Linked DNA regions of Homo sapiens. The protein of the gene in region 3 purifies or fractionates together with the protein of the main gene of each other region. This does not show direct contact. Each region holds a gene or a part of one and is shown on either strand. Other genes may lie near its edges.

Region 1 (7,024 bases), on a different chromosome or scaffold from region 3:
TTTTCTTCCAGGGTTTTTATGGTTTTAGGTCTAACGTTTAAGTCTTTAATCCATCTTGACTTGATTTTTGTATAAGGTGTAAGGAAGTGATCCAGTTTCAGCTTTCTACATATGGCTAGCCAGTTTTCCCAGCACCATTTATTAAATAGGGAATCCTTTCCCCATTGCTTGTTTTTCTCAGGTTTGTCAAAGATCAGATAGTTGTAGATATGCGACGTTATTTCTGAGGGCTCTGTTCTGTTCCATTGATCTATATCTCTCTTTTGGTACCAGTACCATGCTGTTTTGGTTACTGTAGCCTTGTAGTATAGTTTGAAGTCAGGTAGTGTGATGCCTCCGGCTTTGTTCTTTTGGCTTAGGATTGACTTGGCGATGCGGGCTCTTTTTTGGTTCCATATGAACTTTAAAGTAGTTTTTTCCAATTCTGTGAAGAAAGGCATTGGTAGCTTGATGGGGATGGCATTGAATCTATAAATTACCTTGGGCAGTATGGCCATTTTCATGATATTGATTCTTCCTACCCATGAGCATGGAATGTTCTTCCATTTGTTTGTATCCTCTTTTATTTTCTTGAGCAGTGGTTTGTAGTTCTCCTTGAAGAGGTCCTTCACATCCCTTGTAAGTTGGATTCCTGGGTATTTTATTCTCTTTGAAGCAATTGTGAATGGGAGTTCACTCATGATTTGGCTCTCTGTTTGTCTGTTGCTGGTGTGTAAGAATGCTTGTGATTTTTGTACATTGATTTTGTATCCTGAGACTTTGCTGAAGTTGCTTATCAGCTTAAGGAGATTTTGGGCTGAGACAGTGGGGTTTTCTAGATATACAATCATGTCGTCTGCAAACAGGGACAATTTGACTTCCTCTTTTCCTAATTGAATAGCCTTTATTTCCTTCTCCTGCCTAATTGCCCTGGCCAGAACTTCCAACACTATGTTGAATAGGAGTGGTGAGAGAGGGCATCCCTGTCTTGTGCCAGTTTTCAGAGGGAATGCTTCCAGTTTTTGCCCATTCAGTATGATATTGGCTGTGGGTTTGTCATAGATAGCTCTTATTATTTTGAAATACGTCCCATCAATACCTAATTTATTGAGAGTTTTTAGTATGAAGGGTTGTTGAATTTTGTCAAAGGCTTTTTCTGCATCTATTGAGATAATCATGTGGTTTTTGTCTTTGGCTCTGTTTATATGCTGGATTACATTTATTGATTTGCGTATATTGAACCAGCCTTGCATCCCAGGGATGAAGCCCACTTGATCATGGTGGATAAGCTTTTTGATGTGCTGCTGTATTCGTTTTGCCAGTATTTTATTGAGGATTTTTGCATCAATGTTCATCAAGGATATTGGTCTAAAATTCTTTTTTTTTGTTGTGTCTCTGCCTGGCTTTGTATCAGAATGATGCTGGCCTCATAAAATGAGTTAGGGAGGATTCCCTCTTTTTCTATTGATTGGAATAGTTTCAGAAGGAATGGTACCAGTTCCTCCTTGTACCTCTGGTAGAATTCGGCTGTGAATCCATCTGGTCCTGGACTCTTTTTGGTTGGTAAGCTATTGATTATTGCCACAATTTCAGCTCCTGTTATTGGTCTATTCAGAGATTCAACTTCTTCCTGGTTTAGTCTTGGGAGAGTGTATGTGTCGAGGAATTTATCCATTTCTTCTAGATTTTCTAGTATATTTGTGTAGAGGTGTTTGTAGTATTCTCTGATGGTAGTTTGTATTTCTGTGGGATCGGTGGTGATATCCCCTTTATCATTTTTTATTGCATCTATTAGATTCTTCTCTCTTTTTTTCTTTATTAGTCTTGCTAGCGGTCTATCAATTTTGTTGATCCTTTCAAAAAACCAGCTCCTGGATTCATTAATTTTTTGAAGGGTTTTTTGTGTCTCTTTTTCCTTCAGTTCTGCTCTGATTTTAGTTATTTCTTGCCTTCTGCTAGCTTTTGAATGTGTTTGCTCTTGCTTTTCTAGTTCTTTTAATTGTGATGTTAGGGTGTCAATTTTGGATCTTTCCTGCTTTCTCTTGTGGGCATTCAGTGCTATAAATTTCCCTCTACACACTGCTTTGAATGCGTCCCAGAGATTCTGGTATGTTGTGTCTTTGTTCTCGTTGGTTTGAAAGAACATCTTTATTTCTGCCTTCATTTCGTTATGTACCCAGTAGTCATTCAGGAGCAGGTTGTTCAGTTTCCATGTAGTTGAGCGGTTTTGAGTGAGATTCTTAATCCTGAGTTCTAGTTTGATTGCACTGTGGTCTGAGAGAAGTTTGTTATAATTTCTGTTCTTTTACATTTGCTGAGGAGAGCTTTACTTCCCAGTATGTGGTCAATTTTGGAATAGGTGTGGTGTGGTGCTGAAAAAAATGTATATTCTGTTGATTTGGGGTGGAGAGTTCTGTAGATGTCTATTAGGTTCGCTTGGTGCAGAGCTGAGTTCAATTCCTGGGTATCCTTGTTGACTTTCTGTCTCGTTGATCTGTCTAATGTTGACAGTGGGGTGTTAAAGTCTCCCATTATTAATGCGTGGGAGTCTAAGTCTCTTTGTAGGTCACTCAGGATTTGCTTTATGAATCTTGGTGCTCCTGTATTGGGTGCATATATATTTAGGATAGTTAGCTCTTCTTGTTGAATTGATCCCTTGACCATTATGTAATGGCCTTCTTTGTCTCTTTTGATCTTTGTTGGTTTAAAGTCTGTTTTATCAGAGACTCGGATTGCAACCCCTGCCTTTTTTTGTTTTCCATTTGCTTGGTAGATCTTCCTCCATCCTTTTATTTTGAGCCTATGTGTGTCTCTGCACGTGAGATGGGTTTCCTGAATACAGCACACTGATGGGTCTTGACTCTTCATCCAATTTGCCAGTCTGTGTCTTTTAATTGGAGCATTTAGTCCATTTACATTTAAAGTTAATATTGTTATGTGTGAATTTCATCCTGTCATTATGATGTTAGCTGGTTATTTTGCTCGTTAGTTGATGCAGTTTCTTCCTAGTCTTGATGGTCTTTACAATTTGGCATGATTTTGCAGTGGCTGGTTCCGGTTGTTCCTTTCCATGTTTAGCGCTTCCTTTAGGAGCTCTTGTAGGGCAGGCCTGGTGGTGACAAAATCTCTCAGCATTTGCTTGTCTGTAAAGGATTTTATTTCTCCTTCGCTTATGAAGCTTAGTTTGGCTGGATATGAAATTCTGGGTTGAAAATTTTTGTCTTTAAGAATGTTGAATATTGGCCCCCACTCTCTTCTGGCTTGTAGAGTTTCTGCCGAGAGATCCGCTGTTAGTCTGATGGGCTTCCCTTTGAGGGTAACCCGACCTTTCTCTCTGGCTGCCCTTAACATTTTTTCCTTCATTTCAACTTTGGTGAATCTGACAATTATGTGTCTTGGAGTTGGTCTTCTCGAGGAGTATCTTTGTGGCGTTCTCTGTATTTCCTGAATCTGAACGTTGGCCTGCCTTGCTAGATTGGGGAAGTTCTCCTGGATAATATCCTGCAGAGTGTTTTCCAACTTGGTTCCATTCTCCCCATCACTTTCAGGTACACCATTCAGACGTAGATTTGGTCTTTTCACATAGTCCCATATTTGTTGGAGGCTTTGCTCATTTCTTTTTATTCTTTTTTCTCTAAACTTCTCTTCTCGCTTCATTTCATTCATTTCATCTTCCATCGCTGATACCCTTTCTTACAGTTGATTGCATCGGCTCCTGAGGCTTCTGCATTCTTCATGTAGTTCTCGAGCCTTGGTTTTCAGCTCCATCAGCTCCTTTAAGCACTTCTCTGTATTGGTTATTCTAGTTATACATTCTTCTAAATTTTTTTCAAAGTTTTCAACTTCTTTGCCTTTGGTTTGAATGTCCTCCCGTAGCTCAGAGTAATTTGATCGTCTGAAGCCTTCTCTCAGCTCGTCAATGTCATTCTCCATCCAGCTTTGTTCTGTTGCTGGTGAGGAACTGTGTTCCTTTGGAGGAGGAGAGGCGCTTTGCTTTTTAGTTTCCAATTTTTCTGTTCTGTTTTTTCCCCATCTTTGTGGTTTTATCTGCTTTTGGTCTTTGATGATGGTGATGTACAGATGGGTTTTTGGTGTGGATGTCCTTTCTGTTTGTTAGTTTTCCTTCTAACAGACAGGACCCTCAGCTGCAGGTCTGTTGGAATACCCTGCCTTGTGAGGTGTCAGTGTGCTCCTGCTGGGGGGTGCCTCCCAGTTAGGCTGCTCAGGGGTAAGGGGTCAGGGACCCACTTGAGGAGGCAGTCTGCCCGTTCTCAGATCTCCAGCTGCGTGCTGGGAGAACCACTGCTCTCTTCCAAGCTGTCAGACAGGGACATTTAAGTCTGCAGAGGTTACTGCTGTCTTTTTGTTTGTCTGTGCCCTGCCCCCAGAGGTGGAGCCTACAGAGGCAGGCAGGCCTCCTTGAGCTGTGGTGGGCTCCGCCCAGTTGGAGCTTCCCCACTGCTTTGTTTACCTAATCAAGCCTGGGCAATGGCGGGCGCCCCTCCCCCAGCCTTGCTGCCGCCTTGCAGTTTGATCTCAGACTGCTGTGCTGGCAATCAGCGAGATTCTGTGGGCGTAGGACCCTCCAAGCCAGGTGCGGGATATAATCTCGTGGTGCGCCGTTTTTTAATCCCGTCGGAAAAGCGCAGTATTTGGGTGGGAGTGACGCGATTTTCCAGGTGCCGTCCGTCACCCCTTTCTTTGACTCGGAAAGGGAACTCCCCGACCCTTTGAGCTTCCCAAGTGAGACAATGCCTCGCCCTGCTTTGGCTCGCGCATGGTGCGCGCACCCACTGACCTGCACCCACTGTCTGGCACTCCCTAGTGAGAGGAACCTGGTACCTCAGATGGAAATGCAGAAATCACTGTCTTCTGCGTCGCTCACACTGGGAGCTGTAGACCGGAGCTGTTCCTATTCGGCCATCTTGGCTCCTCCCTTATACATTTCTTCACACCTAGTAGATAAATCCTTGACATATTTTTTCAATTGTATATTTACTTTAATTTTGCTTCTGCTATTTTGAGTGAACTTTTTGGAAATCAAAATATATTATTGCAAGTCTTTAAATGATAACAGTGTCAAAATATATTATCGCAAGTGCTTGAAAGACAAAAGTGTTTAAATGATATCTGTGGTTTGTTTTAGGTTCAGGAAGATTTGACTGAAGAGAAAAAAAGGGAACTGGAGCATAATGCTGAAGAGACCTATGGTGAAAATGATGAAAATGTATGACCGGGATACATATTTCTATTGAGCACTTGAGTGTTTGTGGGTGTGCATGTGTATAGGAGAGATATATGTATTTGGGATACGTACCAGTGGGTAATGGTACCTCTGAGTTACCACTGAATTTAACAGGCCCACCTGAAATTAGGAAAAGTTGTGACAACATGAAAAGTAGGAGAGACAGCAGCACTGTTGCTTACATATCATTTTTCTTCCTTTTTTTTCCTCCAAAAATGAGTAATTTTTCATCCTGTTTTTAGAGAGAATTATTTATCACTAACTCTATACTATCTCTTAGTTTTTCTTTTTTCTTTTAATTTTAAGACTGATGATAAAAATAATGATGGAGAAGAGCAAGAAGTTCGAGATGACAACCGCCCCAAAGGCCGAGAGGAACACTACGAGGAGGAAGAAGAGGAGGAAGAAGACGGGGCTGCAGTTGCTGAGAAATCACATCGAAGAGCTGAAATGTAGCGGCACCCAATTTCTAGACAACGCTCAGCCAACGGATTCTTTTCAAGCTGCTCAAACATAAATCTGCCTACTGAACTCTAGGATATTTAATTACAAAAATTAAGAACTTAGACTTTTTTAAAACTTTTGTATTAGAAATGCGCATACATTTATATGAATATATTTTGATAACGTAGGTCTAGAGCTTCTTTTATATTCAAGCTAAACATGAAAAAGAAGAAAAACAATAAAGTAAACCTGAGCCCCCACGTCCCAATTTTTTTAATAGATTATGTGATGTTGGAAAGCTCATTGATTTTGTATATGTTTCAGCGTGTTACCTTTCTGGCTTCCAGTTCCCAGGTGTTCTTTGTTTGCCTTTGATAAAATACAGGATTTAAGAACAGAGAGTACTGCAAAATGCCATGCAGACTTTAAAGAGAATGGCCTGTTTACTAATTGCTGCCCTTCTGATGTCTTTATGTATAGCTCTGATAGAATTTTCACCAGTCTATGTATCTCTGGAGTGAGATCTATGTACAAAGTGACATACAATTGGAAATCCATTTTTGTTGTAAAGACATTGTTTTTCAGACTTTTCAGATCAATTAGAAAAATGTCATTGCTTTAAAATCATAGCTGTTCTGTTTAAGAGGAATTGAATTTAAAAATGAGAGAGTATTAAAACTCATGTGGCAGTATCCTGGTCTTAATCAGGTATTGCAGTGTTCAAACAAGGTATGGACACATCAACATATTCACCTTTTGGAAGGACTAGTGACTTGGTTAAAAACTAATGAGTGTTTGCGTGTGGTGTTTCTATGCGAGCACCCATTCTCAATTTTTTTTTTTTTTTTTTGTTTGAAGCCATTGATTGATATTCTTGTTTCAGTGTCTGGTTCCCTATAAGTAATATATATTTCCTCTTTAAGCTCTGTGCCTCAATATGCAATCACTTTGATAATAAGTATAAATATGAAGACATACCAAACTGCAAATAGGATTATTTTTCAAAACTATATGGTGAAACATATGGTGATATGATAGACTTATGGTTTTTCTGTTTGCTGGGATTGGGTCTGCTTTTTGCCTATGTGTAAGGCATTTTAATCATTGTGAATATAATAGATTCCTTAAAATAAGAAAATTAAAAATCAGAAACTTCCCTTGGAGTAGAGACATTTCAGTTGCAAGCATAAAGATTTTTAAATATATAACACTAGGTTATATAATTCATATATGTGTGGTTTTGTATTAATAATCAAATTAATAAAAACATTTCATTTTCTACCATTGTATGAACGTAATTTTATTTTTTAATAACCACACTCATAGATGGTTTTGATTGTTCCAGTTGAGTGATTG
Region 2 (7,024 bases), on a different chromosome or scaffold from region 3:
GGGTGAGTTGAGCATCTGACTCCGTCCTTCCTCCTGAGACACGTGCAGCGAGGGCACCCACTGTGCAGCGAGGGCTCCCGCCGTGCAGTGAGCATACCCCCTGTGCAGTGAGGGCACCTGCCGTGCAGTGAGCATACCCCCCATGCAGCAAAAGCACCCCCCATGCAGCGAGGGCTCCCGCTGTGCAGTGAGCATACCCGCTGTGCAGTGAGGGCACCTGCCGTGCAGGGCTGCTTCAGGGTTTGGCACCATAATGCCTGGATGTGCTCCGTGGCTTCCTCCTTGGTGCCTGTGTTTGGTGGCTGGAAGGCCCAGCACCCTCAGGGCCCAGAACCCTCAGGGAAGTGCCTGGGCATCTGCCAGGAATTAACCCACTGGGTCCCACTTGTCTCAAAGCCTGGCTTGGTAGGATGGCCTGAACTTTGGATGTTTTTCATGCCTTTCGTTACATAGGATCCTCTTGCTGAGGGTGGATCATGCCCTCCACATTGCAAAAGCATCAGAGACCCAGCCCACCCTCGCGTCTGCAGCGGGAAGATGGGCCTGGTGCCAGGCGCGGGCAGCCGCCCCTCCCAGCGTCGGGAAGATGGGCCTCATGCCAGGCATGGGCAGCTGCCCCTCCCAGCGTCGGGAAGATGGGCCTCCGGGTGGTTTTGCGACTCAGTCATCTGCGAATTTCCGGATGCTGCACAGAAGGGGGTGCCAAAGTTTTTTTAAGATGATGTAAAAAAAGCATAAATTTGATAAAAATTATGTCCATTAACCTCATAAGTTTCTACCCATCGGGAAGGATCATCCTTCTGTTTTCAGCAGCAGAAAACTGACCACAGTAGGGGGTTGTCTGTCACTGAGTCCTCAGCTCTGGTGGGAGGGCAGGGTCAGAGCTGGGCAGGGTGGCCAGCTCGGGGATCTGAGCATCTGGGAGCAGGAGGTGGAGGGCCAGGTGAGCACACAGCTGCGAGGAGGTGGAGGACCAGGTGAGCACACAGCTACAGCTACAGGGAGGCTCTGCGCCTGCAGGACAGGTTATTACAGGGGCCGCAGCAGGGCCTGGGCCGCCTCCACTCTGTTGGCTGGGGTTCAGGGGTCCCAGGTCGCCAGGAGCACCTTGCATGTGGCTCGGGATGCACGGAGTCTCCCGTGAGGTGTGGGTTTCTTAGGACCCCAGGGCAGGTGTCCCATGGGAGTATGAACTAAATGCCTTTGTGGACGTTTAGACGTGAAATGTCTGCTCTAGACTCACACACCTGTCTCGCTCCCTCCTTCCAGAACTCTTAAAACGCCTAGATGACGTGTCCAACGATGTGAGGATGGCAGCCGCCTCCACCTTGGTCACCTGGCTGCAGTGTGTCAAGGGTGCCAACGCAAAATCCTACTATCAGAGCAGTGTCCAGTACCTGTACCGAGAGTTGCTGGTTCACCTTGACGATCCAGAGAGGGCCATCCAGGATGCAATTTTAGGTGAGACTCCGACGGCTTGGCCTTCGTTCCGATGCCTGCTTTCGGCGCCTGCCACGGGCATCTGTAGCTGAGCCGTGTGACCGGCCACAGGGCCCTGGGGCACAGGAGGGGCCTCAGCTCCGGCCTGGCACACTCTTGAGTTCTTGGCAAACCCTGAGAGCGGCTGTCTTTGTGGTGATAGCTGCTGACATTTCCTCTAACAGAAATCAAAACTGAGAGTATTCTAGAATACTTGTTAGTTGTTTAAAATAACAATAGTAAGCCCAGTATATATTGACACAGATGGCTTGTGTTTTTGAAAAATACTTTCCAAAACAAAATCATCTGCAAGAACGATTTTTGCAAATGTCTTAAATGTGTAGCTTGATGGAAGACACTGGACTTTCACATCTTCCATACAGTCAGTCATGATGTGTATGGCTCTGGCTGAAATACGTGGAAAATAATCTGGCCTCGCCTGTGGCTTCAAGTGTAGTTGGACAAAAGAAGAGTATTTTAGTAGCCTTTTCAGATAGGCGTGGGACTTCTTCAATACCACGCCAACAGCGACACAGGCCGTCCCTTGAAGGTCACTCACAGCACAGGGCCTGAGGCCACACACCACAGAGCCTTCCACGCTCAGTGCATTAAAATCCGCTGGTCCATCTCACACTTGGAATGTAACGATTTGCTTTTTTTTTTCTTTTTTTTTTTTTTGTTTTGTTTTGTTGTTGGTGAATATAATGACGTTGTTCTTTTTTTTAATAAAATTTGTATTTTTAATTTTTGTGGGTACACATAGGTGTATATAAGGCATGTGTGATACTGTGATACAGGCATGCAGTGTGTGTAAATCACATTGGGGAAATGGGGTCCCCGTCACTTCAAACACTTACACTTTCTTTGTGTTACAAATAATTCAGTGATACTTTTCGTTATGTTTAAATGTGTGATAAATTATTGTTGACCATAGTCACCCTGTTGTGCTATCAAATACTAAATCTTACTCATTCTGTTTTTGTACTCATTAACCATCCCCACCTCTTCCCCCGGCCCCATTCCTCTTCCGAGCCTCTGGGAGCCATCCTTCTGCTCTATCTCCATGAGTTGAATTATTTTTATTTTTAGTTCCCACAAATGAGAATGTGCGGAATTTGCCCTTCTGTGCCTGACTTATTTCACTTAACATAGCGACCTCCACTTCCCTCCATGTTGATCCAATGACTGGATCTCATTTCTTTTGTGGCCGGATAATATTCCACTGCGTGCGCTCCACGTTTTCCTTCTCCCTTCATCTGTCCGTGGACACCCCGGTTGCTTCCACACCTTGGCTGTCGGAACAGTGGGGCATTCGGCGTGCGCGTGCAGCTCTCCCCCATAGCTGAATTCCTCTCTTTTGGGTATTTGCCCAGAAGTGGGATTGCCGGGCTGTATGGGGCTCTATTTTTAGTTTTGGAGGGACCTCCAGACTGTTCTCCCAGCGGTGCTCATTTACATTCCCACCAGCAGCGTGAGGGTTCCCTTGTCTCCACATCCGCGCCGGGACTTGTTTCCGCAGCCATTTTAACTGGGGTCAGAGGATGTCTCACTTGTTTCTATGTGCATTTCTCTGAGGAGCGGTGGTGGTGGGCACCTTTTCAGACGCCTGTTTGTCATTTCCATGCTGTCTTTTGAGAGCTGTCTGTTCAGGTCTTTTACCCATTTTTAATTGGATTATTAGATTGTCTGCTATTGAGCCTGAGCTCCTCATATATTCCAGTGATTAATCCTTGTCAGGCGGCGGTTCTAAGATACAGTCTCCCATCCCGTACCCGCGGGCTGTCCCTGCGGCTGTACTCTGCTCATTCTTCCCTTTGCTGTGTGGAAGCTTTGGGCCTGGATGTGCTGACTTTGCCTTTTGCCTCCTTTGGAAAATACTTAGACCTTCCCCGCGCAGCTGCGTCCGGTTTCCCGGCGTGGCTACATCCGGTTATGCGATGTCGGATCTTCCTGGTGTGGCCGCCTCCCGTCGCGCAGCGTCAGAAACTCGGATCTTCGCGGCGTGGCCGCCTCCCGACACGCGGCGTCAGAAACTCGGATCTTCCTGGCGTGGCCGCCTCCCGTCGCGCGGCGTCAGAAACTCGGATCTTCGCGGCGTGGCCACCTCCCGACACGCGGCATCAGAAACTCGGATCTTCCTGGCGTGGCCGCCTCCCGTCACGCGGCGTCAGAAACTCGGCTCTTCGCGGCGTGGCCGCCTCCCGTCACGCGGCGTCAGAAACTCGCATCTTCCCGGCGTGGCCGCCTCCCCTCACGCGGCGTCAGAAACTCGCATCTTCCTGGTGTGGCCGCCTCCCGTCACGCGGCGTCAGAAACTCGGATCTTCCCGGCGTGGCCGCGTCCCGTCACGCGGCGTCAGAAACTCGCATCTTCCTGGTGTGGCCGCCTCCCGTCACGCGGCGTCAGAAACTCGGATCTTCCCGGCGTGGCCGCGTCCCGTTACGCAGCGTCAGAAACTCGATATTCCTGGCGTGGCCGCCTCCCGTCACGCAGCGTCAGAAACTCGATCTTCCTGGCGTGGCCGCCTCCCGTCACGCAGCGTCAGAAACTCGATCTTCCTGGCGTGGCCGCCTCCCGTCACGCAGCGTCAGAAACTCGATCTTCCTGGCGTGGCCGCCTCCCGTCACGCAGCGTCAGAAACTCGGTCTTCCTGCCATGGCCACCTCCCATCCGGCGGCATCAGAAACTCGGACCTTCCTGGCGTGGCCGCGTCCCCTCACACAACGTCAGAAACTCGATCTTCCTGGCGTGGCCACCTCCCCTCCGGCGGCATCAGAAACTCGGATCGTCCTGGGGTGGCTGCTCTTGTTACGCAACGTCAGAAACTCTCCTGCGTGGGCACCAGGCTCAGAAGAGTCCGGCTTGTGGTGGCAGGGCCAAGCTTTGGCTCATTGTGATTTTTTGTGTGAGAGCTTGACTTGTATCCTCGGCCACAAACCCTGTCGGTTGTTCTGGGAGTGAGGGACTTGGGCCGTTCACTTTCACGCCGTGCTCTGCCAGATCCCGCGTCCGCACAGCCAGGGTGGGTGCACTGCTCGTCCGTCCGCCATTCTTCCTGGGAAAAGCAGCTCTGCTGCACGACCCTGGTCCTCCGTGTGAAGCGGTGCACCTGGTGCCCACTCGCGGGTGTAAGCCGTGTGCGTGAGGGTGAGTGTGGCAGGTGAAGCCGTGTGCTCGAGGGTGAGTGTGGCAGGGGGCGTGGGCCTCAGCTGCTCCCGCATCTGCGCAGGTGTGAGCACAGTGACGGGCAGGCCGGGCATGCTCTGCGTGCGACCACATGCCTGGCTTTGACTCACAGACCCTCTGAAGGGTCCTGGGGACCCCGAGGGCCTTGGAGCCCATGTCGGGAGCCCCTGCCTTGAGTCGTGGAATCAGGTTGTCAGCCAGTGAGGGAGCCCCAGAGCCCATTGATCCACGGCGGGGCCCGTGGTCTCTCCAGGTCACGGAAAGAAGCTGCGAATTGGAGACCAATTGGAAATTGTTTAAAAGGAGGACAGCAGCTCACGTGCAGGCCTCGCTGGGACAGCCCATCCTGCCAGATCCACGCAACGCCCCCAGCTCCCCACACTCCCTGGCAAATCCCAGCCCTGCCTGCGCCCTCCCAGCTCTCCTGTCCTGCACTACACACCATCAACCCGAGTTCTGAGCTTCTCCTACTCTCAGCCTCAGCCTCACTCGTCCTCAGGACCTTGCTCTAGGCCGAGGAGACCAGTGCCCCTGTGCACCAGCTCAGCCTGCAGCCCCGGCCCTCTCGCCTCCCCAGGACTGCACAGGGCATCTCCCTTCCCCACTGCACGGTACAGGCCATTCTTTCTCCTGTCTTTAAAAAAACAAAACACAGATGCCCTGTACGCCGCCCCCACCTCCCCCACCTCCCCCACCGCACATCCGCCTGGCAGCAGGCTCCCTGGAAGCAGCCCGCCTTACCCCTCCTCGAGGCCCTGGGCCCATGGCAGGCATCTGCAGCCGTCCACCTGCCTGCACCTCTGAGCAGCGCCAGGCACAGCTGGCGGCCACGCACCCTCCTCTGGCTGCGGGACGCCCGTGCTCAGTCTCTTGGTCTTTCCCTCGCCCATGTGGGCCCCTCACTGCTCCTCTGCTGTGTCTGCACCGCTCCCTCAGAGCTCTTCTCCTGGCCTCAGCTCCACACACAAGTGCAGCTGCCTGGTGCCGAACCCTGGGCCGCTACCCCCCTCCCTGACTGCCTGCCGGGTTCCGCCACCCTCAGTGGCTCAGTGGCCATCTGTCCTCAAGACTGAAGGCGGAGACCTTGAGGTCCTCCTGGACCCCCTCTTAACTCCCAGCAGAATCTGATAGACTCCCCAGCCACTGCAGCAACCTCCCCATCCTCTTCCTGCCTCAGCTAGACACGCCCAACCCTTTCTGGCCCCCACCCCTGCAGCTCCCACTGCCCCCATCACACACACCACCACGAGCCCCTGACACGTTTGCCTTCCTGATTTTCATCATCGGCCACTGCTTCCCGATGAACCCTCCGTAAGCATGGGTTCATTTCCGGCTGTGTCGGTGATGCCTGGCCCGTGGGAGGTTTGCAGTCACTGCGGCAGGTGAATTGGCATCCGCAAATTGGATAAGAAAGTCGCCTGTTTTTCTGAGCCTATTTGCTCCTGTGAAACCTGTTTCTAAGCCCAAAAATGCCACCTGAAGACTCTGCAGGACATCATTTCATGGTCTGCCCACAACTGCCAGGAGGCGATTTTCAGTTCTTTGAATGCACGTTGTGACTGCCGTGCACCCACCCAGCAGCATCAGGTTCCTCATATTCACATAGTGACCATGCAGCATCAGGTCACTTGTCCACGTTGTGACTCAGGTCATTCGTATCCACATTCTGACTGCCGTCCACCCGTCCAGAGTGTCAGCTTACTTATATCCACGTTATGACTACTGTGCACCCATCCGCTGCATCAGGTCGCTCGTGTCCACACTGGGACTGCCGTGCACGTGGCCAGCAGCATCAGGTCACTTGTATCCACATTATGATCGCTGGACACCCATCCAGCAGGATCAGGTCATTCGTATCCACATTGTGACTACTGGGTCCCCATCCAGCAGCGTCAGGTCATTCGTCCCCAGATTGTGAGTCGGGTCACTCGTATCCACATTGTGACTACTGTGTCCCCATCCAGCAGCGTCAGGTCATTCGTCCCCACATTGTGAGTCGGATCACTCGTATCCGCATTGTGACTACTGTATGTCCACCCAGCAGCGTCAGGTTATTTGCAGATGCTTTTACAGATGCTTGAACTTCACTACAAAGCCAATTTGCACGAGAGGTAAGATTGGTTTCATGTTTGTTTCTGGCATGTTCAAGGTGTTTTTCTGTTTTACAGAGGTCCTCAAAGAGGGCAGCGGGCTGTTCCCAGATCTCCTGGTGAGGGAGACGGAGGCCGTCATCCACAAGCACCGCTCGGCCACCTACTGCGAGCAGCTCCTGCAGCATGTGCAGGCCGTGCCAGCCACACAGTGACCACGCTGGTTTCAGCCACGGCACACCCTTGTCCCCACCTGAGCCAGAGTTTGT
Region 3 (7,221 bases):
ACAGAGTGAGACTCCATCTCGGGAAAAAAAAAAAAAAAATTAGCCTGGTGTGGTGGTGCACGCCTGTAATCCCAGCTACTCGGGAGGCTGAGGCAGGAGAATCGCTTGAACCCGGGAGGTGGAGGTTGCAGTGAGCCAAGATCACACCACTGCACTCCAGCCTGGGCAACAGAGCAAGACTCCATCTCGGTGTTGCGGGGAGGCGGGGGGAAGAAAAAAAAAAAAGGAACAAACCAGGAATGTGGAACGTGGGGCTTGGCCTCTTCTGTACTTCTTTATCCTTCAGATCTACCTGCCTGTCCCAGGGCTGGTTGTGTGTGCATGTCGCAGGTGGGGTCTAGAGCTTCCTATGCGTGAATGGGACAGCCATCTGATTCCCAGAAGATGTATTAACACCCTTATGGCTACAGATCCAAAACCACATTCCCCAATTGGTTTTATTAGTAAAACCAATTACATTTGATTTAAAACAAAAGCAAATGTAAATCACTAAATACAGTGCCTGCTAGAGAGTAAACACACTGTAAGTAACAGCTGGTATAACTATTTCTGGACCCTAGTATGACTATCAGGCCAAGCACTTTCAACTTTTTTTTTTTTGAAATGGGCTCTCTCTGTCGCCCAGGCTGCATGATCTCCACTCACTGCAACCTCCGCCGCCCAGGATCAAGCAATCTTCCCACCTCAGCCTCCAGAGTAGCTGAGATTACAGGCATGCACCATCACGCCTAGCTAACTTTTTTTTTTTTTTTTTTTTTTTTTCAGAGACAAGAGTTTCACCATGTTGCCCAGGCTGGTCTCAAACTCCTGAGCTCAGGCGATCCGCCAGCCTCGGGCTCCCAAAGTGCTGGGATTACAGGCGTGAGCCACTGCGCCCAGACAAGCCCTTTCAACTTTAATCAGGGGGTTTTAACTTTCTTGCCAAACGGTCCCTAAGGAGAGAGAGTTAATTCACTGCCAAGCTCAAAATTTCTTTGAAATGTTATTGTTCTATCTTATAATTTGGTAGAAATTTTGTATTTTCCTTCTAGAAAAAGAACTATTTTTTTTCTTTTTTCTTTTGTTTTGTTTTGTTTTTGAGATGGAGTTTCACTCTTGTTGCCCAGGCTGGAGTGCAATAGCGCACTCTCAGCTCACTGCAACCTCCGCCTCTCAGGTTCAAGGGATTCTCCTGCCTCAGCCTCCCCAGTAGCTGGGATTATAGGCATGCGCCACCACGCCTGGCTAATTTTGTATTTTTAGTAGAGACGGGGTTTTGCCATGTTGGCCAGGCTGGTCTCGAACTCCTGACCTCAGGTGATCCACCCGCCTCGGCCTCCCAAAGTGCTGGGATTACAGGCGTGAGCCACCACACCCAGCCTGAAAAAGAACTATTTTCCCACAAATATTTGAGTATAAATGTGGTTCATTTATCCTGTCTTTGGCATGCTCTAGTTTGAGGAACAACTCCTAGCCCAGTGCCTCCCCAAACTCCTCATCATCAACTCCAACTTCTTGGACAACGCAGACCTCTTGAGTGCACCAGAGCCCATACCTGGCATAGGTGGGGGTAACAACATAGATAGTAGGCAGGGCCTCGGGTTCAGGGGGCTGGGCAGGGGCAGGGGGTGGCCGTCGGAGTTCCGCTTGCAGCTGGGAAATCCTCAGATCCTTCTGCCGTAGCTGCTCGGCTGCTGCCCGCAGGGGAGGAAGGCAGTCACATGGCTGGCCTGGTCCCAGGAAGCATTAATGGGGAAAGAAGGTGGGGACAGAGAACCGCAGAATGTTCAGCATCCCAAAGGGCCGTAATCGTCTCATTAATTCCTAACCAATGCAGGTATCACCTTATGACTTCCCTAGTAGCCTTTTCTATACCTCTCGTGTGGGAAACTCACTGCCTCAAGCAGCAGACCCTCTCCAACTTTAATAAATTCCATTGTTACAATTTTATGTTGGATATTGAGCTGATTCCATCTTTTCTACCTGCTGGTCCTAATTTTGCCTTCTGGGCTTCTAACAAGCTCATGTCCTTAAACAGGACAGTCTTTTCAGAGTCCAAGGTGCCAACTAACCATTACACTATGGAACCCCTTTTGGACAGTCTTTCAAATACCTGAGGATAACGCAGTGGCACTGTCCCTAAATCTTTGCATAAGGGGCAGGGTTCGATCCATTCCCTTGGCTAGGTGACCAAAGACTCATTGTTAAATTCATTGATTCCATCGTAGGATAAATATTTATTGAATACTCTTCCTAGGAGGCACTGCCTTAGGTGCTGGGGATACAGCAGGGAACAAAACAGACACAGTCCCTGCCCTCATCGAGCTTTCTGTTTAGTGGAGGAAGCAGACACTAAGCAAAGAAACAAATTAATAACATTATTACAAACTGTGATGGGGCCATGAAGAAAATAATCAGGATAGAGAATAAAAGGGAATGGAATTAAGAATGGTAACTTTAGCTATGGTGGTCAGGGAAGGCCTCTCTGAGGAGGTGACATTTGAGCTAAGACCTGAAGGATGAGAAAGAGGCAGCCCGGGAAACGCTGGAAGCAAAGCACCCCAAGCAGAGGGAACAAGTTAAGTGCTTGAGAGAGTAATGAGCGTGGGGTTTTCGAGAAACTGTCAGCAAGCCAGTCTGGCTGCAGCAGAGCGAGGGAGAGGGGTGGAAATGGGGTTGGGAGAGGCGGACGGCAGCAGGATCATGCGGGGCCTTGCAGGCTCTGGGAAGGAGTCTGGATTTCATCCGAGGTGCGGCGGGTAGCCGCGGTGCGTTCTATAGAGGGCAGTGCGCCTGAGGCCGCAGAGCTGTCCGGAGGGCCGAGCGGATGAATGGTGTTTGCCGGGGGTTCATCCCCAGGGCGGGATGCACGGCGGCGGGCGCCCTCGGGCCAGCCCGCCGCACCCCCGCCCCGCCCCGCTCACCGAGCTGTACCAGCGCGTAGAGGAGGCCGGCGATCGACACCAGGAAGTAGGCGAGAAACACGTTCTTCAGCTTCAGCTTCATGGCCGCGCCGCCGCCCGCGCCCGAGCAGGCGGGGTCTGCAGGGGACGAGGGGTTCCCGCCCCAAACCCCGGCTCCTGTCCGCAGGCCCCGCCCCTGCAGCGGCTCCGCCCTGCGTCCCGCCTTCCTCGCACTCCCCTACCAGCTCCCAGCTGGGGCTGGCAGCGCCGCCAGGGCACGCTTCCGGTCATCTGTGCACCCCCCCGCCTTGTAGACTTGATTTCCGGTCCCACCGCCAGGTTCCGGGAACCACCGGGTGGTGACGTCACATCCGGCGTGCCAAACTCGCGTGGCCGGCAGTCAAAACCCCGGGTAGGTGCAGAATCTCGAGTAGGTGCACGTGGTACCTACCTCGAGACCCGCCCCCTCATCACGGAATTGCCTGAGAAAGCCAGTCCTGGCGCCCAGATCTTCACCTTATTCATCCATCCAGTCAGTCACGCCACCCAATAGCTGTTGCTCAATACTTATTACACGAATGAAATCTAAGGCCCACCACATGATCCTCTGGGTGTCTCTCCTGGAATCCTCACTATAATACTTTGAGATAGATAAGAAACCAAAGTTGACAAAAATTATGTCATTGCCACAGGGCAGTTTTGTGTCCTTTCTGGACACCCGATTCCAGCATCTCTAGTGTGTCCTCTGGCCCACATTTCTTCAACAGATGACAACAGGGGTGCCAAGGAAGTGTTTTAACTACCAGGAAATTGATTGGAAATAGTTCCTGAGCTGGGGAATTCCATGAATGCATCCCCTTCCTCCTCACAAGCACAAGCCATCCTTCTCATTTTTCCTTTAAAAAAAAAAAAAAGGGCCCGGCCCAGTGGCTCATGCCTGTAATCCTGGCACTTTAGAAGCCCAGGAGTTTCAGATCAGCCTGGGCAACAAGGCAAAACCCCGTCTCTACAAAAAAAACACAAAAATTAGCTGGGTGTGATGGCGCGGGCCTACAGTCCCAGCTACTTGGGAGGCTGACATGGGAGGCTGAGGCTGTGGTGAGCCGTGATCATGCCACTGCACTCCAGCTTGGGTGACTGGGTGAGACCGTCTCAAAAAAAAAATAACCCCCCAAAAAAAGTTTCTGGTAAAATAATCTCTGACTTGTGGTCAGTCTACAAAATGAGGGGAAGGGGGAACAGTATACTTCCTGTCACTAAAACAATGGGAAACTTTAAAAAGTGCTGTTAGCAGCTGGGCGCGGTGGCTCACGCCTGTAATCCCAGCACTTTGGGAGGCCGAGACAGGCGGATCACGAGGTCAGGAGATCGAGACCATCCTGGCTAACACGGTGAAACCCCGTCTCTACTAAAAAACACAAAAAAATTAGCAGGGTGTAGTGGCGGGCGCCTGCAGTCCCAGCTACTCAGGAGGCTGAGGCAGGAGAATGGCGTGAACCCGGGAAGCAGAGCTTGCCAAGAGCCGAGATCGCACCACTGCACTCCAGCCTGGGCGACTGAGGGAGACTCCGTCTCAAAAACAAAAACAAAAACAAAAGTGCTGTTAGCTACAAGCAGAAGCCTCTAGGTTGGGCACAGTGATCGATGCCTGTAATCCCAGAACTTTAGAAGCCTGGGAGGTCAAGGCTGCAATGAGCCAGGATCATACCACAGCACTCCCCGCACTCCAGCCTGAGCAATAGAGCGAAACTATGTCTCCTCAACCCCCGACATCCTCCAAAAGTTTAGTTTGAGAAACAGCTATCTGACCTTATGGCTATTTCTATCCAAGAGGGACTCCATTGGCTCTGATCACCACTTACTAACTAGGCCTACTAAAATGTGATGATCTTGCTGGGCTCTTCTACGAAAATATCTAGCAACCCAAGGAAGGCTTGCACTTGCTCATTTTGCTGAAATCAAGGATGCTCATGCTGGCCGGGAACAGTGGCTCATCCCTGTAATCCCAGCACTTTGGAAGGCCGAGGCAGGTGGATCACTTGAGGCCAGGAGTTCGAGACAACATGGTGAAACCCCATCTCTACTAAAGATACAAAAATCAGCCAGACGTGGTAGCAGGTGCCTGTAGTCCTAGCTACTTGGGGGCTGAGGCAAGAGAATCGCTTGAACCTGGGAGGCAGAGGTTGTAGTGAGCCGAGATCACACCATTGCACTCCAGCCTGGGCAACAGTGAGACTCCATCTCAAAAAAAAAAAAAAAAAACCCAAAAAGGATGCTTATGCTGAAGCCAAATGAAAATGTAAGGCCCATGGCCAGGCATGGTGCCTCACGCCTGTAATCCCAGCACTTTGGGAGGCCAAGGCGGGCAGATCACCTGAGGTCAGGAGTTCAAGATCAGCATGGCTAACATGGCGAAACCCCATCTCTACTAAAAATACAAAAATGAAGCTGGCCATGGTCGCAGGTGCCCGTAATCCCAGCTATTAAGGAGGCTGAGGTGGGAGAACTGCCTGAACCCAGGAGGCAGAGGTTGCAACGAGCCAGGATCACACACTGTACTCCAGCCTGGCGACACTCTGTCTCAAAAAAAAAAAAAAAAAAAAAAAGACCCAGGGCGCAGTGGCTCACTCCTTTAATTCCAGCACTTTGGGAGGCCGAGGCAGGCGGATCACCTGAGGTCAGGAGTTCCAGACCAGCCTGGCCAACATGGTGAAACCCCATCTCTAATAAAAATACAAAAATTAGCTGGGCATGGTGGCGCATGCCTGTAGTCCCAGCGACTCGGGAGGTTGAGGCACGAGAACTGCTTGAACCTGGGAGGCAGAGGTTGCAATGAGCCCAGATCATGCCATTGCATTCCAGCCTGGGCAACAGAGTGAGACTCAGTCTCAAAAAAGAAAAAAAAAGGAAAGCAAATGTAAGGTCTCTAGGCTTCTAGGGTCTGTGGCTCAGGCTAGAACTAGAATCCAGACTACCACCAGTTATTTATGGTTTATCCCTTTATTGTTTCTCCTTTGATCAAAACGTGTCACAGCTGGGAACCAAGAGGAAGTAAAAAAAATACCCACAAATATTCCCCGACTCCCCATTAGTCCTCCCCCAACCCCCCACCCAGGGCTTCCAGCCAACCCCGAGCACACATGATCATCTCCCCCCACCCTCAGGCTTCTCCTAGCAATAAATACAGGTGACCATGATTCACTGAAACCACAACTGATTTCTCCATCTTAAGTGCCCCTCAAAGGGGACAAGAAGGGGGCAAAAGAAGTTTAATGCGCATCCCCTAAGAGGTGTGGAAACGTCTTTCTGCCGAGGGACAGAGGAGGTAGAACTGCCCCTCTAAGAATTGCAGCAGCTCTACAAGGAATCGGGGAGAGGAAAAGGGTAGAATGAGAGGGAAAAGGATGTTCTTTAGCAACCTCACTCCTTTGATCCATTCATCCTGTCCGGGGTAAGGGGTGGTCCCAGTGTATCGGTGGGGCATAAAAAGGGGAGTAAAGCCTGGAGGAAGAAATGAAAGGTGGGAGAGCAATCTGGTGGGAGGGAAGGGGAAAAGGAGCCCTAACTCATTGCCCTCATCTTCTTCCAAGAAGTGGCATCAACATACAAGAGGCATGAATGGATAGACTCTGGGGGAGTTCAGGGCTCCTAAATAAGGGAAAGAGAAGGGGCGACAAGGGCCCTGTGGTTTCCTGGTGTTCGTAAGTGAATGTGCTCCAGTTAGAGCAACAGGATGTTGGGGGAATGAAGGGAAAGAGTTGGTATCAATGGAGTGGGAGAGGTGAGGAGATCACAAGAGGAATTTGGAGCCCAGGGTCAGCCCTCTCATCCTGCCCAAATGTTGGCAGAATCTGGGTCTTAGACTAGCATAAGTGAAGTCTGGGGAGGGCCGAACTCCAAGGCAGAAGAAAGAATATCTCTCAGCACTAATGCTCCCCTTCCCTCCCCCTAACCCAGAACATCCCTTGGGTTATCGCAGGTGAATACTCCAATCAGATGCCACATTGATGCCAGGCTTGCGCAGGACCAACACAGAGGTCTCAGGGTCATGCTGGAAGGACAGGCGGCTTTCTGGAGATCCTGGAGGAGGAATAAAAGAGTGCCATAGTCATACCAATGGGCTATAGCATAACAACAACGTTCCTACAGGCAAGGGCATCCCTAAACCTGCCCCGGCTTCCCCTCCTTCCCCCATCCTAGGGGCCAGATTGGTCACTCACCTTTTGTCTGGAGTACCACAGCTGCTGGCTTTCCAGCCCCTATTATCACCACCCGCTCAATCCAGATTGGTGTCTCAAAGTGTCCTTCAGGGTCTGCTGAGCTGGAGATGGTAAAAGCA
Region 4 (7,024 bases), on a different chromosome or scaffold from region 3:
TTTGTCTTCTATCTAAACATCTTATGGAAATTTCATTCCTTTTCCTGGAAACACCAATCTGCTCTCATTATTGATACTAATCTCTATTATTTTGTAGCTTTATTTTTATGATAGTTGGAAAAGACTTTCCTAAAATTGTACAGACTCACTCCTTTAGATGTTAAACTTCTTACAATAAAAATAATTAGTATTTAGTCATTGCTTATTTATGTGCCAGGTATTATTTTCATGTTTTGGATATTATATAATTTAATCCTCACAGTATTCTATGAGGCAGGTATTATTCCCATTTTACAGATGACAAAGCCGAGGCACAGACATTAGGAACTTGTGAAGATTACAGTAAGTTCTCATGTTTGATCTCATTCCAGTCTTATTGCATGACATAGTCAAGAGGTTAAGGAGCTCTGTCTCTGGAGTGCCTCTGGTCCTCTATTCTGTACTGATGGGTAATTTTCACTTAAGGCTACATAAAGGATATCCAGTTTTGATGAGAGGCATCAGTCATTTTAGAGCAGTGATTCTCAACTGGGTATGATCTTGCTTCACAGGGCATAACTGGCAATGTCTGGAGACATTGGTTGTTACAGAGCTTGTGGGGTTTGCCACTGGCATCCAGTGGGTAGAGGCCAGGGATGCTGCTAAACATCCCCAAATGCACACGACAGCCCTTCCTTCCCCAACAAAGAATTTTCTGGTGGAGAATTTCAGTAGTACCTGGATTGAGAAGCCCTGCTTTAGAGGGTCTCCTGGGCTGTACTAGAGGGGCTTAAGAGCACCAGCTTTGGAGTCAAATGCTAGGGCCTGAATCCCAGCTTCACCACATGCTAATCTAACACCTTCAGCAGCCTCCCTGTACCTCACTTTCCCATTTGCAGCTGGAGATTGGGGATAATAATAGTTCACCTACCTCATAGGTTTATTGTGAGGATTAAATGACTTGATACATGTAAAATGCTTAGAATAGTACTTTAGAAGGCGCTATGTAATAAACAGAAGGTGCTAGGTAGAAGCTCTTATTTCATCTTTTGTTGCCTTCCTACTGTCTTTTATTACATTTATTAGGTAAAATACTTTGTATTGATTTTGTACTACTGTTTGTAAGGATTCGACTGGCTTGTTAACCACGGTAATTTCTGATGTCTAGCCTTTGTGTTTCATCACCATCATTACCCTATTTGTTTAATTCTTCTTAGGAACCAGGGTGCTAATCATGATATTTGGTTACAGTGTAGTGCTGGACTGGATTCAAATGAGATGTCTCTGCAGGAGAAAAAAGATCAGAACAGAAATTCTATTGAGAACATAGCCAATGAGACTGTGAACGTGCTGTGGAATATATGGTAAGATGCCTACCAAACACAGTCTCCTGCTATAGCAGTACCCAGGCTGCTATTCTCTGTTATACTGTGTAGGAATCTCTGTTCCCCTTGGTAGGCCTGTTAATCTGGGATGTTAAGACATGGTAGGGGCCGGACATGGTGGCTCATGCCTGTAATCCCAGCACTTTGGGAGGCCGAGGCGGGTGGATCACTTGAGGTCGGGAGTTTGAGACCAGCCTGGCCAACACTGTGAAACCCCGTCTCTACCAAAAATATTAAAAAATTAGCCGAGTGTGGTGGTACATGCCCATAATCCCAGCTACTCGGGAGGCTGAGGCAGGAGAATCGCTTGAACCCTGGAGGCAGAGCTTGCAGTGAGCCAAGATCGTGCCACTGCACTCCAGCCTGGGGGACAGGGCGAAATTCCTGTCTCAAAAAAAAAAAAGACTTGGTAAGAGGCAGGATCAAGTGACCTAAGATCAACCCTCCTTCCCAGTCCGTTTTCTTACTGCATCACTACATCTTTTGTTTTACGGCTTTCCTCTCCAGTCATTGCATCTGACAAAAGATAGGAGGAATCATGACCATTAGCACCTGTGGCTCCTCCTTTCCCCCGACTTCTTGTACACCCTGAGCAGAATTTGTCTTTAAGCTGGTCAGTCCCACATGCAGGTGCAGCTTTGGTTTGGCCTCTAGACTGAGATGGGGACCACAGACCTTGGCTGGTGCTTTTCTTTCTCTTTCCTGGCACTTACTGTCTGATTGGGAAGTAGATGCCTAAGAAGAGCTCCCTTGGCCCCAGGAGGAAGAAGGCCACTCTCCATTCTGTGATTGTAGCAGTGGTGAGGGTGGAGTGGACTTGCCGCTAGGAATGGAAATGGCTAGAAACACAACCTGGATTTACTTTTTTCTGCCCCATTTTATGTCCCACATTTCTAGCAAGACTCTGTCACAGTTTCTTATCTTCAGTCAGCAGCAATTACAGTGGCTGACCTAAAAGCACAGATGTTTCTTAGAATACAAGATTAAGTTGGATCCTGAAATGCCTACGTGGCAATCTGACCTTGCCTGTGATTTCATTTTAATGAATGCATTCCACCAGAAATATTAGAGAGATCAGATCTGAGGAAATGGCATTTGAGCAAAAACTGATGGGTGCTGTTTTTCTGTGCACCAGATAACTTTAAGTCATAGAAATTGTTGCATTTGGAAGTTTTTAAAAAATTTCCTTGAAAAGAATCTGAATATATCTCCAAGGTGATTTCTCTTTTCTGAATACCTATGAGCCCTGTCTGTATCACTGAGTTACTATAACTTTTAACATTTTTGTTTCATCATTTATATTTCAAATTATCTTTACACATATATGCCTTGTCTTCCTGACTAGACTGTGGGCTCCTTCATGCTGCCATAACTAGATAGGTAGGTAGGTAGGTAGATAGAAGATATGAAATATTTTTCATTACATAACAGATTTAGTTTAATAATTTAGTCAGCTCTGTTAGCGTGTCATGTGTGTATGTTATATGTATGGAGGAAACATGTACAACATGGATATTTCCTCTGGAAACATGGATACAATTATTACAATTAGCCTTGTTAACTCGTATTTAATGTGTTTGCTTATTCATAACACTGAAAGCTGAGTCTTTTATTAAAAGGTAGTATAATTTAAAAAATACTTATTGTAATTTCTCTATTGTAGACTGCAAATTCTGCTTGATGAAATTATAATTGCACTCTAAAAGGCTTGAATAAAATATAATTTTATTTTCCTTTAAATGTGTGTTTTTGTTAATGTTCTAAAATATAGTAGGTTAAAAAATAAAAAATAAATTTGTGTTTTTGTGTGATAAATATAGAGGCCTTTTATCCTCCTTTAACTTGTTATCATTGTGGTATGGAGGAAAGAAAAAACAGTAGCCTGGACCCAGGGAACCTAGGTACTGGGCCTGGCTCTACCACTAACAAAATGTGTGCTCTTTGATGGGCCACTTTACCACTTGGGGCCTGGGTCTTCACATTTATAAAATGGGGAGTTGAATTAAACGATTTACAAGATCTCTTCCAGCTCTAACCTTCTATAAGGAAACTGGCATCATGGCAAAGAGATTGATGAAAAGGTCCCATTGTGATAGAAATAAAATATAGATAGCCAGTTCTCATGTACAGTGAATGTGAATGGGTGTTAGTTCCTTCATCGATAAAAATGGTGGGTGTTTGATTCCAACTCCTTGGTTTATAAAGCCTCGTTTGTTTTTTTATGGATTGCTATGGTTGATTTCCTACTGTTAAAATGTGAATAGTAAAACTTTTTTTTCCCCCTTCAATTTAGTGAATGCAGTAGTAGAGCAGTGTCTATATTCAACAAAGAAGGGTGTTTGGAGATTGTGTTAAAGTATTTAAGTAGGTTTCCTACCAATGTTGACCTGGCTATTTCAGTAGGTAAGTGAAGAAAAGGTGATGACTTATTAAGAATGTGTAGCCTTATTCAAAAATTTTTATGCAGCTTTGGCGTGTTTATTCCACTGGAGTGATTTTTTGTTTCGTTGTATGTGAATGTGTAGCTCAGCACCTGTTTTTTCTGGGTCTTAAATCTGTGATTAATATTAATTCTTTACCTACTCATTCAGTTTTTCTGCTTTTGACTCTGAAAGGGAGAAAGGTAATTATGTGAGGATATGTGGTTTCTAGCCTGTTTCCATTCTTAGCAGCCTTTATTAATTCTTGAAGTTTTCATCTCCATTTACTAAGAAACAGTAACGCACAACTACCAGGCCTTTAAGCCAGTTAATTGGAATCTAAACTTATTTAAATGTATTGTGCTACTATCTCATACGTCCAGCAGAAAACTGACGGCCTGAGTTTTGTTGAGAGAAAAAGAGGAAAAGAAATGATTGAAATTCCACTTAGGCCTTCATGCCTTCCATGAGACAGGGAAGGCAAAGTCCAGCAACTTCAGTGGCTTTGGCTGCCTCGCCTTCTCTTTATTGGGCTGGGGAACCACTGGGGACCCTCAGCTCAGTGGCAGGAGGCAGAAGTCAGAGCATAGGCAACTCAGCAGAATTCTGGGTGGGAGTGGAGAAACAATTGAGGGAGAGCATTTCTTTTCTACCGATCATTACTGCGGGCATCCAGCTGTCCCTTTGTGGAACTGCATTTCTCCTGGGGAGGAAGAAGTGTATTCCCCTGACTGCTGTTTTTCTTGACTCTAATGGATATTTTTAAGAGAACAGAATTGAGGGAAAATAGTAGAATAAATACTACTGAGAAAATTTTAAAAATCATTTCTCTAAATGGAATCTTGGTGGGGCTGGAGAGTTGTGAGTAAATGGGGATTTTAAAAACGATTCAGCCATTTTTAGGAAATTGATAGGTGACTTAATCTCAGAGGACAGTTTTTGTTACAATAAGAGAACTTCAGGAAAGTTAGTTCATATCTTTTACAAGAAAAATCACTTCTATTTTTGTGCCTTTAGTCTTATAGATTTATTTCTGTTTTTAGTTTTTCTTCCCCTTAATGAGCGTTTTTGAAATGGATTAGAATAGTCATTTTGCATTGTATAATAGTGTTTTCCTTCTCCATGTAGCTAGATTAATGATTTTTTAAAATACATTATTACTTTTGCTTCTAAAGTCAAGCAATGCTTACATATAGTAAAATGAACTTATAAGATTCCATCCCATGTATTCATATAACTTTTTTTGAACCTGTATGGTAGCAGTCATGGCTGTTGGCTAAAGTAAATTTAATTAGTTTCTTAATGACAAAGATATTACATTTGGATATATGTACAGAAATGCATATATGTGGATTTCCATATAAATGTATCATCAACCACAGCAGTAGCATGCATTTTGAGTAATTTTGATGGGCATGATTTAATATTTTACACATCTCTTAATTTGCTCATACTTTTATATAAACTACTTTTTTTCTTAAAGAGCTATTGCTCTGCCAGAAATAACCCTAACTTTGAAGGTCATGATAAATTTAAAGGAAGCCAGACGTCCCAAAACCTAAGGCTGTTTGCTACTGGTCCTTGATAAGTACATAAATTGAGGGTAAAATTTTTTTTTTTTTTTTGAGATGGAGTCTCAGCTCTGTCACCCAGGCTGGAGTGCAGTGGCGCAATCTCGACTTACTACAACCTCCGCCTCCCGGGTTCAAGCTATCCTCTTGCCTCAGCCTCCCAAGTAGCTGGGATTACAGGCGTGCATCACCATGCCTAGCTAATTTTTGTGTTTTCAGTAGAGATGGGGTTTTGCCATGCTGGCCAGGCTGGTCTGCAACTCCTGACCTCAAGTGATCCTCCTGCCTCAGCCTCCCAAAGTGCTGGGATTACGGGCATGAGCCACCGCACCCGGCCTGAGGATAAACTTTTATAAACATTTATAGTAACGACATTGCCGCATTTAAGAGTCTTTTTAGGCTGGGCGTGGTAGCTCACACCTGTAATCCCAGCACTTTGGGAGGCTGAGGCGGGCGGATCACAAGGTCAGGAGATCGAGACCATCCTGGCTGACAAGGTGAAGCCCCATCTCTACTAAAAATACAACAAATTAGCCAAGCATGGTGGCGGGTGCCTGTAGTCCCAGCTACTCGGGAGCCTGAGGCAGGAGAATGGTGTGAACCCAGGAGGCGGAGCTTGCAGTGAGCCAAGATTGTGCCACTGCACTCTAGCCTGGGCGACAGAGCGAGACTCCATCTCAAAAAAAAAATAAAAGAGTCTTTTTAATTGTATTTTGTAAAAAGTGTAGATCTGGCTGGGCATGGTGGCTCATGCCTGTAATCCCAGCACTTTGAAGGGCCGAAACGGACAGATCACTTGAGACCAGGAGTTCCAGACCAGCCTGGCTTTCATGGTGAAACCCTGTCTCTACTAAAAATATAGAAATTAGCCAGGCATCATGGCGCATACCTTTAATTCCAGTTACCTGAGAGACTGAGGCACAGGAATCGTTTGAACCTGGGAGGCAGAGGTTGTAGTGAGCTGAGATGCGCCACTGCATTCCAGCCTGGGTGACAGAGCAAGACTGTCTCAAAAAAAAAAAAAAAAAGTATAGATCTGTACAGGATTAGAAATTTAAAAAGAAAAGAAACATGATCTTTTCCAGCACTGATAGTTTGGGAAGCCTCATTTGCGCATATCACCCTGAGATAAAGCATATATATTTTGCAAAACCTACATGTGTCTAATGAAGTGGTAATGATACAATGTTTTATTGATGAGTTATACTGGTGTAAATTATCCAAAGCAGAATTCATTTGTTTCTAAATACTTATTTTTTGCCTCGTAGCATATTGTTTGCAGACAGTGACTGAGGATAACCCAGAGCTGCTGAAGTCTTTCAGTGCTACAGCATTGAACATGCTGGAATCAGCACTGCTTTCTCCTGTCAGTTCCATGGAATCTCTTCTATTGAAGACATTGGTAGCAGGTAAAATTTAGCCTTACGGCATAGTATATTGTTTCAGTAGCTTTTGGTATGGATGTGGTGGGGGCAAAATTTAGTCATTCATTTCAACACATTAGGTCTTCTGTGCTTTTATCTGTTCTGAAAATTTTAATATCTGAGAAGAGACCCTTACTTCAAGCAGTTGTCTATAGTTGTAAATCCTTGTAGAATAGATTTGTTTCGAATTTAACAAACTACTGTTAACCTGATAAAGAGATGCTGTTGTCAGGATCCCCACTTAT

The links.
Region 1: the proteins of B3GAT3 (region 3) and GOLIM4 purify together in Homo sapiens (affinity purification with mass spectrometry; 4 studies listed by BioGRID and IntAct, with this or other methods). This does not show direct contact.
Region 2: the proteins of B3GAT3 (region 3) and DNAAF5 purify together in Homo sapiens (affinity purification with mass spectrometry; 3 studies listed by BioGRID and IntAct, with this or other methods). This does not show direct contact.
Region 4: the proteins of B3GAT3 (region 3) and HEATR3 purify together in Homo sapiens (affinity purification with mass spectrometry; 4 studies listed by BioGRID and IntAct, with this or other methods). This does not show direct contact.

Annotation. Positions count from the first base shown.
Region 1 is NC_000003.12:168,008,925-168,015,948, reverse strand, and holds part of GOLIM4 (Golgi integral membrane protein 4), read left to right. Parts: intron 1-5,125; coding exon 5,126-5,206; intron 5,207-5,530; coding exon 5,531-5,680; 3' UTR 5,681-7,024. UniProt on the Homo sapiens protein: Plays a role in endosome to Golgi protein trafficking; mediates protein transport along the late endosome-bypass pathway from the early endosome to the Golgi.
Region 2 is NC_000007.14:778,684-785,707, forward strand, and holds part of DNAAF5 (dynein axonemal assembly factor 5), read left to right. Parts: intron 1-1,269; coding exon 1,270-1,461; intron 1,462-6,833; coding exon 6,834-6,970; 3' UTR 6,971-7,024. UniProt on the Homo sapiens protein: Cytoplasmic protein involved in the delivery of the dynein machinery to the motile cilium.
Region 3 is NC_000011.10:62,618,963-62,626,183, forward strand, and holds the start of B3GAT3 (galactosylgalactosylxylosylprotein 3-beta-glucuronosyltransferase 3), read right to left. Parts: upstream 3,025-7,221; 5' UTR 2,986-3,024; coding exon 2,904-2,985; intron 2,858-2,903; exon of another isoform or gene 2,154-2,857; coding exon of another isoform or gene 2,093-2,153; intron 1,710-2,092; coding exon 1,535-1,709; intron 1-1,534. Other genes in the region: GANAB (neutral alpha-glucosidase AB isoform 3 precursor), read right to left, coding at 6,853-6,962, 7,103-7,203. UniProt on the Homo sapiens protein: Glycosaminoglycans biosynthesis. Involved in forming the linkage tetrasaccharide present in heparan sulfate and chondroitin sulfate.
Region 4 is NC_000016.10:50,068,948-50,075,971, forward strand, and holds part of HEATR3 (HEAT repeat-containing protein 3), read left to right. Parts: intron 1-1,230; coding exon 1,231-1,343; intron 1,344-3,657; coding exon 3,658-3,767; intron 3,768-6,623; coding exon 6,624-6,764; intron 6,765-7,024. UniProt on the Homo sapiens protein: Plays a role in ribosome biogenesis and in nuclear import of the 60S ribosomal protein L5/large ribosomal subunit protein uL18 (RPL5). Required for proper erythrocyte maturation.